Linked DNA regions of Homo sapiens: region 1 is linked to region 2. Evidence: fine-mapped expression QTL. Tissue or cell type: stomach. Region 2 holds a variant in brackets; the other region holds the start of a gene. All regions are shown on one strand. Distances are between the middles of the regions.

Evidence for each region.
Region 1: TRIM36 starts here. The variant in region 2 is fine-mapped to the expression of TRIM36 in stomach (GTEx, PIP above 0.99).

What each region holds. Positions count from the first base shown.
Region 1 is chr5:115,168,411-115,171,318 of GRCh38, forward strand. It overlaps TRIM36 (tripartite motif containing 36), which reads right to left and starts at 1,498. Exons shown (of 10, transcript NM_001300759.2): 1 at 1,198-1,498. The coding sequence starts at 1,224. RefSeq lists silencers at 674-763, 1,494-1,913.
Region 2 is chr5:115,193,867-115,196,774 of GRCh38, forward strand. No RefSeq gene overlaps it. Among named protein-coding and RNA genes, the nearest start is that of TRIM36, 25 kb to the left of the region's middle. The variant T/C (reference allele first, on the strand shown) is at 1,588.

The sequences.
Region 1 (2,908 bases), 25 kb before region 2:
ACAGCCCAACTTCAAAGTACTTATAACCTTGTACAATCATTTCAGCTACTAGAAATACACAGAAAATTAAAATTGACTTAACTAAATGTAATGAAATTTTAAAATGTATGCTAACCTATTCTCCCTAAAGTGACACCAAGTGCTTCAATAATCTCTGACAATTTAACTGCATTAGAGCCAACTGGTTTTATCATTGTCAGTGGGTGTTTCGATGCAGTCTCTTGCTGCATCACTCAAATATGTGATGAAGAGCCATATCACCTCCCAACTGTTCACAGATTTGGAAATAAGATAACTAAACCTCACAATTCACATCAAAGAATACAGAATATTCACATCCTATCTCATTTCACAAAGGGTTTGGCACCTAATTCAAAAGAAAATCTTGTCCGGGATATCCAAAATAGGTTCTTACATTCCATTTTATGTATAAATATGGTCAGTTCAGGTTTACTTGTCACTGGGGGAGGATCTAAAATCATTTCCATTTTCTTGTACATAAAGCAGTGTCTTGAATCTGACTTTTTAATCACAATGGACATAAAGTATTTCTTACCCAAGAGAAAATTTAGTTCATCTGTCATTGAGGGAGAAACAAACTGATTAAGTGTGATGTGGCGGCTCCCTCAATTAAGCAGTTCCTCGAGAAACTTCGGAAGAATTGCACATTCGACACCTTTAAACAAAAACACTTGTAGGCTGACAGCTGCCGGGGCCCCGGCCCGCCCCCCGCGGGCAGGCGAAGCCGGGGAGGAGCCTCTGGCCCAGGCGGCGGCAGCCGGCCGGGCCCGCGGGGGTCAAGACGCCTAGACAAAGGGCGGCCCCGCAAGCGCGAGGGACGCGCCCCAGCTTTCTGCCCGCACCCGACTCCCAAACGCTAATTAATTCTACAGCCTGAGCTCCATTAGAGAGACCCTCCATGATTCCCCCGAGGTGCTCAGGTGGGCAACCATCGGATTTGCGCTCTTCTCCGGCCCAGGGGACCCCACGTCCGGCTCTCGGGGATAGAAAGGGGACGCCCCGGATTGCGGAACCTAGCCCCGGGCGGGAGAAGGCGAAGAGGAAGCGGGATCCCCACACGCCTGCCTTTGCTCTCCCGGGAGGAGGCTCCCTCCGGGCTCCCGGCGGAGGAAAGAGAAAGAGCCGCGGTCGGCACACCGCCCTCGAGGTGGGGGCGGCGGTCCCCTCCGCACTCACCGGCGAATCTGAGCCATCGCCCTCCATGGCTGCCTTCTGCCAGGTGTCATCAGCGGCACGTTCCACTCACACCGGCTACCGAGCGCAGGGTCTGGTGGGCGGGTCCCTGCGGCGGCCGTGGAGCCTCGGTCCGAAGCTGGAAGATGAGCTGGTCAGCTGTACGTGGCCAGCGGACCGACGCGGGGAGAAGTAAGCCGGGGCAGGCAAAAGCACAGGCGCGGGAGAAGCGAGCTTTGCTCCCAGCGACTACCCCGGGAATCCCGCCCAGCTGCCGGCTGCAGCAGCGGCTCCTGCGGACTGCGGCTGGGAACGGCGCCGCGCAGAGACCTGGGCGGGGCACCGCGGGGCGTGGACAGGGCGTGGCCTGGTCGTTGCCCAGGCAACAGCGCCAGTCGCACAAAAGAGGCGGGGCCGCCTGGGGCTGGTAGGCCGGGTGTCTGAGTGGTAGGCTGAGCGGGACTCGGCTGGGCGTGGGTGTGGCACGCGGTTGGGACTCGGCGCCCTCCGCCGCCACCTTCCCCCTACGCATCAGCCCCTCCCTCCCACCCGGGTAGTCGCCCGTCGCCCTATGCCAGGCTGGGGGGCTCTGAGGAACGGAAGTGAGGGCAGCGGGGAGCGGTGGGCGGGTGCCGAGGGCGGCGCCGGGGCGGGGAGGCTCCGCTGCAGCAGAGCAGCCGGCTGCAGCCCTGGCCCCTGGCCCCTGGCCCTGCGCTGCCATTCCGCCCTTCAGTTTGCTCTCACTGCGCTTTCTTCACTCGCGGTTCGAAGCCCCGCTTCCAGGCTCGGCACAGGACGGTGCGGGCGAGGGCGAGCCTAAGCCACCTTCCCTGAATGGCCGCGGCGAGCACGGCAGAGCTGCGCGAGGCGACCAGAGTGAGACCCCGCCCGCCCTCTCCGCGGTCCCTAGCCAGGCGCGGCCTGGGGTTCCCTGGCCCCGCCCGGCTTGTCCCAGTTCTCTTCTGGCTTCACTTGCTGGGTGAACTTAATAGTCCCTGACTGGGCACCGAGCAGTCATATCCCGCTTTCTGCTTCTATACCCCCAAGTCGCGATGTCACCGCACGTTCTTGCCCAGTAGCGCGGGGACCGCCTGCAGGGTGGAGATTCCTCTCCCGGATGCTGGCCAGGGACTGAAGTTAAAAGGCCGCGGCAAGGGAGAGACCCCCCGCCACCCGGGCCTACGCTTTCCTTCCTGAGGGCCAGGACAGAGGGTCCTGAGCGGCTCCGGCACCCCCGCACCCCCGCGGGGAGTGCTGCTGAACGTTAAGGCGCGCGCCAGCTCAAGGACTGGCGGCGCACATTTCACCTGCCACGGCCCAAGTGTGTTTCTGGTGTTGTTTTCAGGACACACGGAGAACAAATTAATTTAGGATTATTAGATCACGCACTGCCTTTCTGGCTAGCTAAACAATTCATTCCTATGTATTAGGCTTTAAGAACAGATGCCCTAAATTGCTGGGTAAGTAGGGACTACAGAGCTGTAGCGAGACATCTCGTTTAGGTTTTAAAATGCTTCCCACTTTTATTTCCTGTTTGGGAGAAGTCTGTCGCTGTGGCAAGTTCCGTCGTCTTCCCACAGCCCTGTCTGCAGCGGTAGCCTCGTCTCCAATCCGGCATCTAAATAAGGAGTGTAGAATTAAAAACACTGAGGGACTATAGCAATTTTCTCTAATGGAATACCCTCCATTTACAGATGAGGTGAACAGAGGACGA
Region 2 (2,908 bases):
CTCCCTCTGCCTAGATCTGCTGGGGCAGGTGAAGCTTGGCTTTTAAATTGAGAGTTGAACGATAAATAAGAGTTCAAAAGGGCAGGTAAAGAGAATTAATTCTAGGCTAAGAACCACCTGTGCAAAGGCACTAGGGTAGCGAGTACAGTGCCTTCAGGTGTTAGATACTTTACTATCATTGGGTCGGAAAGAGGCAGTTACCAAAGATGAGGCTGGAAAAATAGGTAGGGAGTAGATCTCCAAGGCCTTTTAAAGCATGCCACGGAGGTAGACATTACCTGTAGACCAACACTTCTTAAATTTTAATGCTCATATGACTCATTTGGGGACCTTGTTAAAATATAGATGCTAGCTGGGCACAGTCGCTTGCACCTGTAGTCCCAGCTACTCAGGAGGCTGAGGCAGGAGGAGTGCTTGAGCCCAGGAGTTCAAGGCTGTATTACACTATGATCATGCCTGTGAATAGCCACTGCACTCCAGCCTGGGCAGCATAGATAGGTCTCAGGTGGGGCCTGAGCGTCAGCTTTTCTAAAATGCCCCAGATGATGTCCTGCTACAATAAAGTTGGTCTACAGACCATGTGTTAAGTAGCAAATATTTACAAATTACAAATTCTATTACCTGGAATGAATTCTATATACTAAGACATACCTTCAGCCCTTGAAAGGAACTGGGACACGATTCAACTAGAGCTTCCAGGATGGTGAATTCTGCCTATAAGTTGCCTCCTGGGTTTACTGCGGGTGCCCTACAAATGCAATAATTTTTTTCGACATGTTCTATGATGTGAAGACAGTGGGGAAGCAATGTAGCACAAATAATCCAGTCAGTACTATAAGAACCACAATTTGGTTTTTTCGGCTGCGGGGAGAGGAGTGCAAACAGTCCCAGTTACCCAAAGCAGCTGATATTCATTGTCAGCATGGCCCAGAGCCTTTTTCCCCCAGTAGTAATCATTTGGAGATTGAAATCTTGGCTCCAGTTCACCTCTGCAGTGGGACTTAATTCATGCCAGACTGTGGTGGTTTCTGCAGCAGTCCAACTCTGCCAAGGCTCAAAGTCCAAAGATTCTGTCATGCAGTGGCAACAAAGGAGGAGTAGAATTAAAACATAAAACTCTTGTTCTATGACCTTTCAGTTATTATTGCTTAATTATTTTTATGAGATTATAAGTCATTTTGCCAAGTCACTCCTTAGCCCTTTTTGAAACTGTGACAATGATTACTAATTTGGTCACTTTTCCTAACAACCTATAATAGATATTTGGAATAGGAAAATGTGAGACTGTATGAAATGAAAGAAATGTGAATTTCTGTGGAGTCAGTTGGCCTTTAGGTTAACGTTGTATATAAGTATGTGTGTAGGAACATAGTCACACATATGAGATTGTACCTGCAGGTCAATTTCTAGAAAAGAAACTGCTCACAGGTGTTGCCTCTGGAGAGAAGTGGGGAATGGGAGAAGGGTCAGCTCTGCGAGATCTTTTGGGCAATAGTACTTCTTCTATTCTGTTTTAAATTTTTTTCTAATATGATGGCTTAACTTAAAAAATACCAAAGAAAGAACTGTCTCAATGACTGAAAAGTA[T/C]GATAATACTTGCAGGTTTGGGTAATATAATACCTTTCCTCTGGGTCATCTAGTATTGAAACTCTTTTTGTACTGTGTTTAAGGAGAAAAGATTAATGCCTTTAGGTCCCCTGAAGTTTAAGCCCAGTTTAAGCTAAATTACCTAAAGTTTGTTAGTAAGGAAACCAATTTTTGAAATAAAAAAATTCCCCGTAAGAATTTTTTTCAGTTGTTTTCTCAGTTGATGATTTTTGCCCCCTCTTCAGACAACAGTGAAACATAAAATGAGATGCAGCATTACAAAACGAAAAGAACTGGAGGGAAAAACATTTGCTTTTGATGCAGTCAAGCATCTTCATTGATGCCCTTCTGTCCACTTTCTCTCTCCCCCAACTATAATATCATAGAATGCTGAAGGAAAGCACATTCCAGATACATGTTGTGTAGACTAGCAACATTTAATGGATAACTTCCATTATGCTATTACAAATTTACAAGCATAGAAGAAGCATTATCTTCCACAAATACTATGAGTATTAAACACTCAACAGTCATAACCCAGTTTGCAATCTCCTATGACTTACATAAAATTTCATCTTAATAAATTGCAGTGAAAATAGATGGCACACGGGAGGTAGGACTAAATTGCAGCTCCGACTCAGAGCAGCATGCAGAGGCTCTCATCATGAATTTTGCTCCAGAACGACTGCGAGAACAAACCAGAAATCCAGAGAGGACCCACAGAACATCTGAAGAAAGTGGACTGCTCCTGCAGGACCCAGGAGACACCCAAATACTGTGCTGGAATCTATGGCTGAGAGACTTATAGACGGTTCACATCGCAGGACTCTGTGAAGACAACCTGAAGTACCAGCCTGGAGCCGGGTAGACTTGCTGCATGGCTAGACTCAGAAGAGAGATAACAATCACTGCAGCTCAGCTCACAGGAAGCTGCATCCATAGGAAAAGGGGAAGAGTACTACATCAAGGGAACACCCCATGGGACAAAAGAATCTGAACAGCCTTCAGTTCTAGACTTTCCCTCTGACAGAGCCTATCAAAATTAGAAGGAACTAGAAAACCAATTCTGGTAATATGGCAAAACAAGGCTTTTTAATATCCCCCAAAAATCACACTAGCTCATCAGCAATGGCTCCAAACCAAAAATTTACCTGAAAAGGAATTCAGGAGCTTAGTTATTAAGCTAATCAGGGAGTCATCAGAGAAAGGCAAAGCCCAATGCAAGGAAATCCAAAAAACGATGCAAGAAGTGAAGGAAGAAATGTTCAAGGATATACTTAGCATAAAGAAAAATGTAATAAAAACTTTAGGAAACATTGGA